2 linked regions of the Homo sapiens genome follow. The protein of the gene in region 2 purifies or fractionates together with the protein of the main gene of each other region. This does not show direct contact. Each region holds a gene or a part of one and is shown on either strand. Other genes may lie near its edges.

Evidence for each region.
Region 1: the proteins of SLCO4C1 (region 2) and HLTF purify together in Homo sapiens (affinity purification with mass spectrometry; 2 studies listed by BioGRID and IntAct, with this or other methods). This does not show direct contact.

The regions. Positions count from the first base shown.
Region 1 is NC_000003.12:149,069,527-149,076,552, reverse strand, and holds part of HLTF (helicase-like transcription factor), read left to right. Parts: intron 1-505; coding exon 506-672; intron 673-2,204; coding exon 2,205-2,338; intron 2,339-3,230; coding exon 3,231-3,328; intron 3,329-4,895; coding exon 4,896-4,970; intron 4,971-5,109; coding exon 5,110-5,301; intron 5,302-7,026. UniProt on the Homo sapiens protein: Has both helicase and E3 ubiquitin ligase activities. Possesses intrinsic ATP-dependent nucleosome-remodeling activity; This activity may be required for transcriptional activation or repression of specific target promoters.
Region 2 is NC_000005.10:102,293,265-102,300,609, reverse strand, and holds the start of SLCO4C1 (solute carrier organic anion transporter family member 4C1), read left to right. Parts: upstream 1-4,325; 5' UTR 4,326-4,347; coding exon 4,348-4,702; intron 4,703-4,965; exon of another isoform or gene 4,966-5,082; intron 5,083-5,810; exon of another isoform or gene 5,811-5,893; intron 5,894-7,345. UniProt on the Homo sapiens protein: Mediates the transport of organic anions such as steroids (estrone 3-sulfate, chenodeoxycholate, glycocholate) and thyroid hormones (3,3',5-triiodo-L-thyronine (T3), L-thyroxine (T4)), in the kidney.

The DNA.
Region 1 (7,026 bases), on a different chromosome or scaffold from region 2:
GTGTGGGTTCAGATCCTAGCTCTGCTACCTTTTAGCTTTGTGACCTTGGGCAAGTTACTTTTCTGTGCTTCAGTTTCTTCATTTGTAAAATGGGAATAATGATAGTACCTCCCAATAGAGCTGTGAGGATTTAAAAAGTCAGTCTGTGCAATGTACTTAGACCAATGCTTGGCACATAGTAAGCGCTCAATAAGGGTTGGCTATTTTTCAGAAGTTATGATGTTGAAAATTTTAGATAATTTGAATTTGCTAGTTTACATTTGACTATTTTTTAAGACATTAAGGATTTGTTAACTTCCTAATGAATATAGATTAGAAAAATAATATTAAGGAGTCATAATAATATATATTAATATTTCTGTAGTTTGTGTCTAGAAAATATATTTTTCTTATGTGCAGTGTTTAGCAGTAGCATTAAAAAATGAATGGAAATCCCAGATAAAGTATAACAAAGTTATTGTCTATTATTTATAATGTAATATTATCTGTTTATCATTTTTATTAGGTTAATAATAATGAAATGGTTGCATTACAACGAGATCCTAATAACCCTTATGATAAGAATGCAATTAAAGTAAACAATGTGAATGGAAATCAAGTTGGCCATTTAAAGAAAGAGCTTGCAGGTGCTTTGGCCTATATCATGGACAACAAATTGGCACAAATTGAAGGGTAATGTACTTTCAGAATTTAGTTTTAATAATTGTGAATTATAGTCATCTTTGAACTTGTTAGGGCTTCTTGTTAGAGCCTATAAAGGTATGCTAACAATTTCTATCACTGTACTTTTGGTACGTGTTAAATAAATGTTTTATTTCTCCTTTTACATACTTCTACTACCCCAGCCATCAAACAATTGTCCTCTCATTTTCCTATGGAATTATTACCATGGAGAAAATAGACCTTGGTTCAAATATTAGGAAGTACATTCCATTTCTCCAAACCTTTTGGTACCTAGGTTTAGGAATTTGGAAGTGTTTATTTGTTTATTTATTTATTTATTTATTTTGAGACGAAGTCTCACTCTGTTGCCCAGGCTGCAGTGCAGTTGTGTGATCTCGGCTGACTGCAACCTCCGCCTCCAGGGTTCAAGCAACTCTCCCTGCCTTAGCCTCCTGAGTAGCTACAGGTGCCTGCCACCATGCCCAATTAATTTTTGTATTTTTTAGTAGAGACAGAGATTTGCCATGTTGGCCAGGCTGTCTCGAACTCCTGACCTCAGGTGATCTGCCCGCCTCGGCCTCCCAAAATGCTGGGATTACAGGCGTGAGCCACCGTGCCCAGCCTGGAAGTGTTTGTTTATATCAGAGGTTATAAACTGGTATTCTGTGATATGATGTAGGTGAATTTCATTTTGCCCTGCAGTGTTTTAGACATTTTTTCGTTCAGTACTAATTATTGAAATAGCTAAGTCCGCATTTTATACATATTAATTTATTTTCTTAAATACAAAAAACTTATTTTTCTCTTGACAAGTGGGAAATCTGGCAATGCAGGATGAGTTGTCACTTCCATATGACAATAGTTGACTGGAACTCTCCCTTTAGCTAGGGCATATGCTCTCCCAGTTTTATCACCTGTTTCTTTTTTCTTTTTCTAAACTCTTTCAATCTTTCAGTTACCTTTTCTCTTTTAGGCATTTGTACTTGTGATCTCAATTTAAGTATCTGGAATATTTAGGATCTTGATATTCTAATTCTAATTTTTAGGATATTCATATAATCCTAGGTGAGTTTGAAGAGAAAATAAATGCTCATAATGTCTCACTTTGTTTTCTCCTTTTTCAGTTTATCAGGTTTTTCAGTTATTGAGAATAACTTAGTGAATCACAAGTTCTTGCATTTCCCATTTTCCAAGCAGAATGAGTTACTACCCTCAGTGGTTCCGTTAGCCAAACTCTACCCTTTGATTTAACTTATTTTACTTATATTACAATCTTGTTTACAGGCCATCCTTGCATTTTTAAAACTGCTTTATTCCATTTTCTCAATTTTTTCTGGCACTCTGTTTCTAAAAATCACCCTTCTGATTGTTTATGGTTCTATTTCTTTTCCTTTTTTTCTTTCAAGTCTGCCCAACTAGTTCCTTATTACTTTACTTCAATGTAAAATGTAAATGATACACTTAAAATATTGAACTAATTCTTAGTGGGGATAAAAAGTAATGCTTCTGATTTCCCTTTCTTTTTCTCCCAAATATAATAGGGTAGTTCCTTTTGGTGCAAACAATGCTTTTACCATGCCTCTGCATATGACTTTTTGGGGAAAAGAAGAAAATAGAAAAGCGGTTTCAGATCAGTTGAAGAAACATGGATTTAAATTGGGTCCTGCACCAAAAAGTAAGTTTAGGGTTTCACTTAATATTATTCTGATATTGTAAGATGCAGGGATTATGAAACATTTATTCTCTCTTGGAGTTTGTTGGCTAATTTGTGCTCAAGGCTCCAAGGTACAACTTTTTTTCAGGAGTCTTTTTGAGGAAATCTCTGATTTTTCCTTTTGCCTCTATTGAAATAGATTCACACATAAAAATATACACAGTAAGAGTGAGGGGATATTAAAAAAATTAAAGAAAAAGTATATATGCAATGAAGTCTCATATATACCCTCCCCTAATTTTCCCTAATGGTAACATCTGGAAACCCCTGACTTTAAACATTCTTTTTGATAAATTTTAGGCAAAAATAATCTTCTGATAGCGAATGAAAAGGATTGCTTGGCAAGAGTTTGTTCAAATAATGTGGAATTACTTGTTTTTTTAGTGATTTAGTATTTAGCTTTTAAAATACCTCTAAAATACAAGGCTTTTAATGCAGTTTGTTATGCACGTTTTATTTATTTATTTGTGTATATATTTTGAGACAGAGTCTTGCTCTGTCACCCAGGCTAGAGTACAGTGGCCACGATCAGTGGCTGAGTGCAACCTTGACCTCCTGGGCTCCAGCAGTCCTTCCACCTGAGCCTCCTGAGTAGCTGGGACTACAGGCGCACACCATCACGCTCTGCTAATTTTTGTATTTTTTGTAGAGACAGAATCTCACCATGTTGCCCAGGCTAGTCTCAAACTACTGGACTCAGGCAAACCACCTGCCTTGGCCTCCCAAAGTGCTTGGGTTACAGGCATGAGCCACAGCACCCAGCCCTGTTAATGCATATTTTAAAAGCTACTTAATAAAAGATAAAAACCTACTTTATTTGATGGCTTTATTCTTTTTATTTTGTAAATTATAGCTTTAGGATTCAATTTGGAAAGTGGTTGGGGCTCTGGAAGAGCTGGACCAAGCTATAGTATGCCAGTGCATGCTGCAGTACAGATGACAACTGAACAGGTGTGCTTCTCTTTTATTTTGTAATCTAAAAGTGAATTTTAAATGTTGCAGGTTTGTATTTAAAAGAACAGGATGAATATGTACGTGTGGGTATTTGTGGTCTTCAAATATATTAAGTTATAATGAAACATGTTATAGAATAAATAGAATATATATATGTTAACATTTTATATAAAAAGTACTGATAAGGAATAAATCCATACGTGAACATTTGTACCCAACATACAAAACACACACGTTCCTGTTTATGCACGGCATATTTTTGTATCTGAAATGTTTTAAATGTTCAAGTAGTAATTTTAAGAAAAAAATTGAAGCTGAGACTTAACTCCTTTCAGTAATTTTGCAAATGCAGTGCTAAAGATTTAACTCCAAATTCTTCACATTGTCTAATTTGTAATTTAGGATGAGTTATGCTGAATTTCTTTGAAAAAAAAGTATATAAAGTAATTAATGCAGATCAATTTAAAAATAACATTAAAACTTTTTTGATGTTTGTATCTACCAGTGTTAGTCCTTTTATCTACTAATTGTAGTTACCATATTTACCCTGCTTATTGTTAGAAGGACTTGAGCTTGTTTCTGGTAGATAAGCCCCCGGTTACTTCTGATTTTTTAGACCTGGCCTGATTTCTTCTGAGCTGCTGCTGTGTTCATGTGTTAATTTTCAAAAATATCTGTATCACATATATGTTGATATAAAATTGGACTAACCTAGTTTAAATAGTCAATTAAGTTAGCATAATAATAAAAGTATCCTATAGTGCATGGCAAGTTCCTTATTGCAGTAATAATAAATGGAATGTCATTGACCTGGTAGGACTGAGAAAATATTTTGAATACAACTGATAGCATCACAGAATTTTAATGGCAGAAGGAACCTTAGAGACAATCTAAATTTAGTTCATCCCTTTCATTTTATAGGAATAAGACATGGGGCCATAAAGGTCAAGTCTTGCTGAAACTTACATATAAGCTTATTTGTGATAAAACTGTGACTGAAACTCGGGACTTAAAATTCTTTTATATTCTTTTACCTCCTAACAACTAAAGCACCTGTTCATTCGCTCTTCAGTGAGTAGTGTAATTCTAGAGTTGATTTATGTGCCTTTTTGGCGTTTGACTAGTTTGTGGTTTTTAAATTTAATTTAATTTCAATTTCTTAATTTTTTGGGACAGGGTCTCACTTTCTTGCCCAGGCTGGAGTGCAGTGGCATAATCATGGTTCACTCTATCCTCTACCTACTAGGCTGAAGTGATCCTCCCATCTCAGCATCCCTAGGAGCCAGAACTACAGGCATGCACCCCCATGCCTGGCTAATTTTTTAAAAATTTTTTTGTAGAGATGGGATCTCTCACTATGTTATCCAGGCTGGTCTCAAACTCCTGAGCTCAAGTGATCCTCCCACCTTGGTCTCCCAAAGTGCTGAGATTATTGGCATGAGCCACCACTCCTGGCCCGTTTGACATTAACGCCAGTTAATTAAATGATTTCAAATCTGACTTAAATGCAAGTATTATTTTAATTAGTTTGTTTTACATTGTTTCTTGTTGCTGTTTATTGTAGCTTAAAACAGAATTTGACAAATTGTTTGAAGATTTAAAAGAAGATGATAAAACCCATGAAATGGAACCAGCTGAGGTATTGAACCAATATTTTTTATTTAAGACTACTCAGAATGTTTAAATATACTTAGAATCTACTTTTTGTTTAATCACAGGATCTGCATGTGAAAAAGGAATGGCTTAATGTATTTCGCTTTATGACTTTTTATTTATAGGCTATTGAAACACCACTGCTTCCACATCAAAAACAAGCTCTAGCTTGGATGGTGTCACGGGAAAATAGCAAAGAACTTCCACCATTCTGGGAACAGCGAAATGACTTATACTATAACACAATAACAAATTTTTCTGAGAAGGACCGACCAGAAAATGTCCATGGAGGAATTTTAGCTGATGATATGGGTTTGGTAATTATTTTTTTCTTTAGTTAATAAAATCTAATTTTGTGATTATGATTTTCTAGAAAGTAATTTTGAAGTAAAAAGAGATAGGAATATGTTGGTACCAGTTTGGGACTAGATCTTACTATCTTTGTAGAACACAGTTTTTCCTGTAGTTTTTAGTTAAAATAGTGGTATAAAGATGTGTTCCTCAGTTTTCTTTTTTTTTTTTTTGAGATGGAGTCTTGCTCTGTCACCCAGGCTGGAGTGCAGTGACGCGATCTTGGCTCACTGCAGCCTCCGCCTCCCAGGTTCAAGCAGTTCTCCTGTCTCAGACTTCCAAATAGCTGGGATTACAGGCATGTGCCACCATGCCCAGCTAATTTTTGTATTTTTAGTAGAGACAGGGTTTTACCACGTTGGCCAGGCTGGTTTTGAACTCCTGACTTCAAGTGATCCGCCCGCCTTGGCCTCCCAAAGTGCTGGGGTTACAGATGTGAGCCACCCTGCCTGGCCATGTTTCTCAATTTTCTTTGCTCTTTGAAATTCAGGGTGACCTGTCTTTCATAGGTTTTCTTTTAAAAAGTAAAGACAAAACAATGTTATGTGAAATTGTATTCCATCACAAATATTGTGTTATGCAGAGTATTAAATAGATACTTATGTGTCCTTACACTAGCAGTTTTTATATTTTTCAGTCTCAGTAACCCTTTCTACTCATAAAAATTACTGATTTCAAAGAGCTTTTGCTTTTGTGTGCTGTTATCAGTAGTTATAGTATTAGGCAGTGGTAGCTAAAGATAGCAGTACAAACTCATTGCTTGTTAACATAAATAGCATATTTTTAAAAGAAAAATAACTATGCCAAAACATTAACATTTTTGTTGCAACAACTGGCATTGTCACATTTTTGCACATCTCTGTGTTTGGCCGAATAGATGGCAGCTGAATTCTCACCTGCTTCTTCATTCAGTCTGTTCTGTTAGGTTGTTTTGGTTGAAGTATATGAAGAAAATTTGTCCTTACGACGGTATGTTGCTGTAAAGAGAGGAGTATTGTAATAGCTTTTTAGATAATTGCAGATTTCTTTGATATACTGCATCAAAATTCAATAAATATTAGTTTATTAAAGGTTAATTGTTGTAATATGGAACGCTAAATCATATCAGTGAGCTTTTTATACCCTGTTTTGTTAAAATCTATTTGTGTATCTTGCTCATTGAATGAATATTTTACCCATGTATGATTTTATAACACCAGGCATTGCTCATTTAGAAAATGTTGGTTCATTGAGTTGGGCAGACCTACTAAATGTTGATGTATTTCATATGCAATATCCAAAACTTACATTCATTAATATTACCACTGATGTTATTAGAAAATCATTTACATTTTGGGAAGGCACTATGTTCATAGTGTCACACACAACTTTTCCAACATTCTAATTTTCTATTGAAAACTCACATTTTATCATTGACAAGCTCAGTTGTTTCCTTTGTAGATGACAGCCTCACTTTGTTCATTTTCTAGAAAGTATCTTTCAGACACTCAGTCGTGATTGATAGTTGTCATTCAAGTAAAAATGGTGTCGCATGAAAAAAGTGACTAGTTGAGCTTATAACTCCCATCTTGAGTGATTTTTCTCTAGCTAACCCTCATAGTTTGATATGCAACAGAAGTAGTTAATATGTAGTTTCCATTTCACTACACAGAATATTAAAAAGATTTGTACTGAAGTAATGAGACTTAATA
Region 2 (7,345 bases):
AATGTTGACATGTTTTTTTTTCAAATAATTATTATCAGCCATGTTTATGTATGTATTTCTTTTTCTTTCTTTCTTTTTTTTTTAAGCGATCAAGTCTTGCTGTGTCACCCAGGCTGGAGTGCAGTGGTGCAGTGGCGTGATCTTGGCTCACTGCAACCTCCCTCTCCCAGGTTCTAGCAATTCTGCTGCCTCAGCCTCCTGAGTAGCTGGGACTACAGGCACATGCCACCACTAATTTCTTGTATTTTAGTAGATACGGGTTTTCACCGTGTTGCCCCGGCTGGTCTCGAACTCCTGAGCTCAGGCAATCCTCCTGCCTTGGCCTCCCAAAATGCTGGGATTACAGGCATGGGCCACCGTGCCTGGCTTATGTATGTATTTCTTAATGATTTATGATGAATAAGATGAAAAGAAAAAGTACAGTTGCATTTCTTCTCAATATGATTATATATTTATGTGTAATTGCAATTTAAAACAGTATTAAAAACAATACAGTTCAGTGTTAATTTTTTTCTTAGATTTAACTTATTATTTTTAACTATATGTTTTGTGAAACATTTAAAACTGAAAAGATAAATCAATAATACTAAGATGGTCACTTAGATTGTCTGGTTGCTTTTATTCAGTTAATATAAGATGCTGTGATATTAATAAACCGTTAATACTAGGATTTGTAATTAACCTCAACGATATTCACATTTGACCATGTTTGTAATCAGCCACTGTCAAGATCCCTCTAATTTTAATATTCTATGAGCTCATAGTGTTATACTGCTAAAGGGTTCACATTTAGTCTAAAACCAGAAGGGAACTAATAAAGCATTAACAACACAGAGGGGAAAATGATAAAGTACTCAAGATAGGCATATCAATACATTTTCATCCAGTATACATATCTACATGGAAGGCCCAAATCATAAGATCGCTCTTAAGCATGGAATCAGAGCAAGGGGAGTTAGTAGGACAATCTTGATAACTTCTGTCATTAAGCCACTTCACCTTGTTTCATCCAATTCCTGAAAGGAAAGACCTACTGCACATCCCAGAGAATGATATCCAGAGGCAGGGACTGCTTCTGTTTACAGTGTGGGAGCCTTACCATAAATTTTGGACATTCTCTTTCTCCCATTCTCCACCCTTTAAAAACATAGCAAATAAAATGTACTATAAGAAGAGTAAAGTATCAATTACCTTCTGAAATTTAAGATGGTATATTTTGACTGTGTTCATTAGAGGCAGATTTAACCTAGATTGACCAAACAATTAATTTTAAAATGGACGTTTTTCCATAGAATTATCAGGGATGAAAACTAACAATTTTTCTTTCCTATTTTTGTTTTTTGGTTTTTGTTGCAAACCGAAGCCCCTTCCATCACTGCAGCATAAAGAATGTAAGGGAACAGGAAATTGAAACTTTCAGTAAGAGCAAGATGTATTTAAGATGAAGCAATAGTAATTTTGCTAATCTTTAACCAAAATTCTCTCTCTAACACTGTGAGAGTGGAGATTTCTCCTTAGTATGAATTTAAGTGCACGATGATTATGCTACTCTGATTTTGATAGTATAGCATGGATTTATTAAGTCACAGCTGCAAAATAGTCTTAAGCCATGATTGTATGTAATCACATCCCATCAAAACAAAATTTTCTGGTTGTGTAAATTACTTCGTATTCCATAGATAAAATGGTGATCAAAATAGTTACCTACTTTGAGTCCATTTTTGTAGAAAGCAAGCCCAGGAAGATTACATACCATGCTTAATTTGAATACCTCCAAAATCTAGGTTTTCAGAGCAGCATTAATCTTCTAAGCCTCACGAATATCACAGAATTTTGAATTTTGATCTCTTAAAATTGCTATGCAATAATTTAACCTGATGGAGATACACTGTAGTTATTAAAAGACAGAAAATGCAAAGTTTAGGGAAGACTTCTGGCTAAGAGAGCCGAGTTCAGATCCTTAAGTGGCAGTTCACTTATTAGCTATGTGACTTTGGGACAGTTACTAATTCTTTATGGGATATGGTTTCCTCAATATGTAAACTATATATAACAGTGCAGCTGCTTTTGTAAAGATTTTAATAATGGGGCATATAGCAGACATTTTAAATGTTAGCTCCTACTTCTACTCTTTCCCCATGTTTTAGGCCAATCTAGAATTTATTTTTATTTTTAATTCTTATTTTTTTGAGACAAGGTCTGGCTCTATGGCACAGCTGGAGTACTCATTGCAACCTCACCCTCCCAGGTTGTAAGCGACCCTCCCACCTCAGCCTCCCAAGTATCTGGAACTACAGGCGTGCACCACCATGCCAGGCTAAGTTTTGCATTTTTGGTAGAGACAGGGTTTTGTCGTGTTGCCCAGGCTGGTCTCAAACTCCTGGACTCAAGGCACCCACCTTGGCCTCCCAAAGTACTGGGATTACAGGCCTGCACCTCTGCGCCCGGCTGGCCAGTCTAGAGTTTTCTCGATTGTGAGGAAACAGGTAACAGAATGTACCTCTGTCCAAAGTAAGATACATATTTTATATCTGTCTCTCAACCCAGTAAACACAGCATATATAATTGAAACAAAAGTTTCACAAAATAGTATTTATCATATTATGTGCCATGTACTATGTATTATTACTGTCTGTTTCCTATTAAAACATAAGCACCATAAGGGTAGGGGTATTTGCCAGTCTTTGTTCACTTGTGTACCCCCAGAACTTAGAACAATGTTTGGCACCTAGGACACAAGAATTTTTTGTGTCTGTGTTAAGTGAAAGAATGAATGACTAAATTGTACCTACCATGACACAATGGTGTTAAGCTCTTCGAAGTGTTTTTCTTATTTATTCCACAGTTAGACATGTATTATTATTATTATTATTATTATTAAGAGACAGAGTTTCACTCTTTCACCCAGACTGGATTGAAGTGGCACAATCTCGGTTCACTGTACCCTCCACCTTCCGAGTTCAAATGATTCTCCTGCCTCAGCCTCCCAAGTAGCTGGGATTACAGGCCTGCACCACCACACCTGGCTAATTTTTGTATTTTTAGTAAAGACAGTGTTTCACCATGTTGGCCAGGCTAATCTTGAACTCCTGACCTCAGGTAATCCACCCGCCTCAGCCTCCCAAAGTGCTAGGATTACAGGCGTGAGCCACCGCGCCTGGCCCGGTAGAAATTATTTACATGATTGTCATCACTGTATATCTTACATATGCAATATACAGCAGAGAGACAATTTCTGGTCCTTCAGTTTCGGAGAAGGAAAAGCAAAGCAGTGGTTATGCTGTGATGTTCATCCTGGTGGTGATGGGGGTGGGGTGGGGTGGATTTCTTTTTCTAAGGAGGACTGAGGCAGGAAAATAGGGTCTGGAGGCAGGAAACATAAGGCCTATTCACACTTCAGCTGTAACAGGAAATATCCTCTCCATAGGGCGTAGGCCATAAATGACTTTGTAACTTTACTTCATCTTCTCCCTTTACATAGGGCATACCCAAAGTAACCAATGGAATCCTCTAGGGGGTATTTAAACTCCCCAAAATTCTGTAACCGGGCCTTTGAGCCCCTATGCTCGCCCGTTCCCACACTGTGGAGTGTACTTTCATTTTCAATAAACCCCTTCATTCCTTCCTTGCTTTGTTTGTGCGTTTTCTTCAATTCTTTCTTCAAGATGCCAAGAACCTGGACACCTTCTACCAGTAACAGGATGACAGGCAAGAGTCTTATCAAGATGCTCATGAACCAAAGTATACCTCTGACGTCTTGATTCTTGGAGTCCAAGCCTAGACTGCTTTGGTAAGCAGCAAAGGAAGAAAACGCAAGATAGTTTCCTGAACAATCTCCTGATGCAACTGTTTACAGGTTTCATGTCAGCACCCAAGGGGAGCTTATGGCCAGAGACTCCCACAGTCTCTGTGTGTTCCCAGTGCTTGGGCTCAAGGGAGGCGCGCTGCGGGCTGAAGGCTCAGGTCAGAACCGCAGGGGCTTGGGCGGAGGCGGACTCCGGTCGAAGGCTGTGGGGTGAGAACTCTCGCCCCCTCTACTCGGCCGCCGCCGGGTGGCACGCCCACGCCGCGCCTTCCGGTTGGTCCTTGAGGCGACGGGTGAGGCACAGCTGAGCGCCAAAGCCACAGGCTGGGGCGCTAACGCCCCCGCTCAGCGCTCTGCGCTCCAGACAGCTGCGAGCTGGAGTAGGAAGGTTCAGGCGGTGGCGGAGAGTGCGCTGGAGGCTGGAGGGCCAGGAGGCGGGAAGCTTCCCGCACGGGGGCGCTGTCACCTGCCTGTGGGAGGAGCCAGAGAGGGACCTGGCTCTGCTGCTCTGAAGCACCGGAGTCGGGAGAACCCATCCAGACATGAAGAGCGCCAAAGGTATTGAGAACTTGGCTTTTGTCCCCTCCAGCCCAGACATCCTGCGCCGCTTGTCTGCGTCGCCCTCCCAAATCGAAGTCTCTGCCTTGTCCTCTGACCCCCAAAGAGAGAATTCTCAGCCACAGGAGCTTCAGAAGCCCCAGGAGCCCCAGAAGTCACCAGAGCCATCTCTGCCTTCAGCCCCTCCCAATGTCTCCGAAGAGAAGCTCCGGTCACTGTCGCTGTCCGAGTTTGAGGAGGGGTCTTACGGCTGGAGGAACTTCCATCCTCAATGTCTCCAGCGCTGCAACACACCTGGAGGCTTTCTGCTTCACTACTGCCTCTTGGCCGTCACGCAAGGTAAAGTCCAGCGCCCGCTTGAGGCTCGGGCCAGTGGAGAGCGAGGTGGGCACGGCGAGCCAGCCGGGGGAGAGGGCAGGTGCGCGGGGTCCGTGGGACGGTGGACGCGCCCTGCAAGGTGGCCCCGGGTTTGGAACTTGCTTGCGCTCTCACCAAGGTCAACCTACCGGCCCCCAGCCAGCCTTCCAAAGTTCAGCTTCTCCTTTATCACTACAGTTCAAACTTGCAATACAAGCCTTTTTCTCTTTTGTGTTTTACCTCAGTTTAGCGGATTCAAGACTTACAGGGAAGATTACAAGAACCTTCCTTTGGGAAAGGTATACCCTGGGGAGTTTATTTTACATTATAAAGACAAAAATTTACCTAGGCACTCTTTAAAGGTATTTTACTTTTACATTTGTTTCATTGCCTCAGGGGAAGGAGTAATACGTTTGCAGGTGGGAGTGGGATGCCTTACAAGGAAGAAAGCTATGAAAAATCTATCGTATAAATTAGATACAGACATTCATGTTTTGTGAGTGTATTTAGTTTGAGAGTATGTGGTCACCAGAGGAGCCCAGTGAGTAAATTAGCAAAGGCTCCCGACGTTGTTGAGCCTTAATCTTCATTGTGTTACATTAGTTATCCAGCATCTGTTTTGTTCTAGGATCTCTTTTAGGTTCTCTTGGGAGTTACAGATTCAGTTCAGATTTATACCCTCAGGGGCTTGCAATCTAAGCTCAGTTTGGAGGAGTGATATCCTGGAGGGAGAACAGCTCCCTTGAAAGAAGGCACAGGGAAGGTTAAAGCTGCTTCTGGTGTGTTCAATACAGAGGTTGAAGGAAAATAGGAAGTTAACCTGAGTTGACTTTGAGGAAGGGTGGAGAAGAGGTGGAGAGGAGTCAAGAAGGACATGCCGAAGCTTAGCTGAATTGGAATGTAGATATTTTTTGGTCACTTGAGTCATAGTCCGAGAATATTTTCTGTATAATCAGTCAAGGATTAATTGGAAGAAATACAACCTTAGAAATATAGATTTTAGAGGGTTGGAAACAGCTCATTTTTTAAGTTAATAGAAAACTAAGTCAAAGCCTAAGTATACTTTTTGTTCTTATTCTTCCTCTTCAAGGAACCCAGGGCCCCTTGCTTTGCGCATTAGATGCTAAGTAACCATTTATTGATTGCAAGTCCGCTGCAGCTCTTCTACTGAAGGTAGATTTGTGTTGAAGAATTATTTCCCTGTCCACTTTTCTTGTCCCTACCAAAGTTCCCCTCCATTAATGTCTTGATCATAGTTTTACAAAATTGGTAATTGTGAAGCATCTCAGTGTCAAAGGAATGCGAAGATAAAAAAGTTGGACACAAGTAAAAAATGTCTTATCTTGTGTATTATCTTAAAATTCCTCTGAAATTTCTATATTATTCCAAAATATAACATTTTATATTTAATATAAAATATTGCCTAAAATTGTTATCAAATGTAATTGTCACTCCTAGAAAATTTGTCAGGTTTAGTCTGGAGCAGCATCTACCCAGAGGTCCCCAATTTAAGAAGCTTAATCTGAGATAATAGTGACCCAATAGGCTGGGCATGGTGGCTCACGCCTGTAATCCCAGCACTTTGGGAGGCCGAGGCGGGCGGATCAGTTGAGGTCAGAACTTGGATACCAGCCTGGCCAACATGGTGAAACCCGTCTCTACTAAAAATACAAAAAATTATGGCCGGGCGCCGTGGCTCACGCCTGTAATTGCAGCACTTTGGGAGGCTGAGGCAGGCAGATCAACTGAGGTCAGGAGTTCGAGACCAGCCTGGCCAACACGGTGAAACCCCGTCTCTACCAAAAATACAAAAACTAGTTGGGCATTGTGGCGCATGCCTGCAATCCCAGCTACTTGGAGGGCTGAGGTGGGAAAAACACTTGAACCCAGGAGGCGGAGTTTGAAGTGGACCGAGATCGTGTCATTGCACTCCGGCCTAGGCAACAGAGGGAAACTCTGTCTCAAAACAAAACAAAACACCACAAAAATTAGCCGGGTGCGGTGGCACACGCCTGTAGTCCCAGCTATTCAGGAGGCTGAGGCACGAGAATGGCTGGAACCCGGGAGGTGGAGGTTGCAGTGAGCCGAGATGGCGCCACTGCACTCCAGCCTGGTGACAGAGCGAGGCAAGGTCTCAAAAAAAAGTATAATAATAAAAAGTGTGACCCAATAAATTACTAGTTTACGTTTCAGTTTAAGTTTGAATGCCTGAAAACTTTATTGCCATGTTTCTCAAACATGATCCTTAAGATCATTTCCATGGTATATTTAAATATACATTTAATTGGAAAGAAAAACAAAATTTCTCGAATGAGTTTATTTAACCCAGCATTTCTCAAAGACAAACAGGGATTCTCTAAGTACTTAATTTTCTAATGTGCTTCCTATTGTCATTCATTTACAACAGAGAGATGTAGTATGGAGCGTTTCCTGATTTTTTTGTTTTTGTTTTTTTAAGTAGTGTTCTTGGAACTTGTATAGCATAGAATTCACTTTAAGAGTCATTGGATTAATGTGCTATCCTTCCTGAGGAGTTTACAAATTTTTTTTTCAAAGAGAAGTTTTACCATAAAGACAATTCTTTCTATTAACTAATTTTTAATCAGTATGGCAAGTGATAGGGAA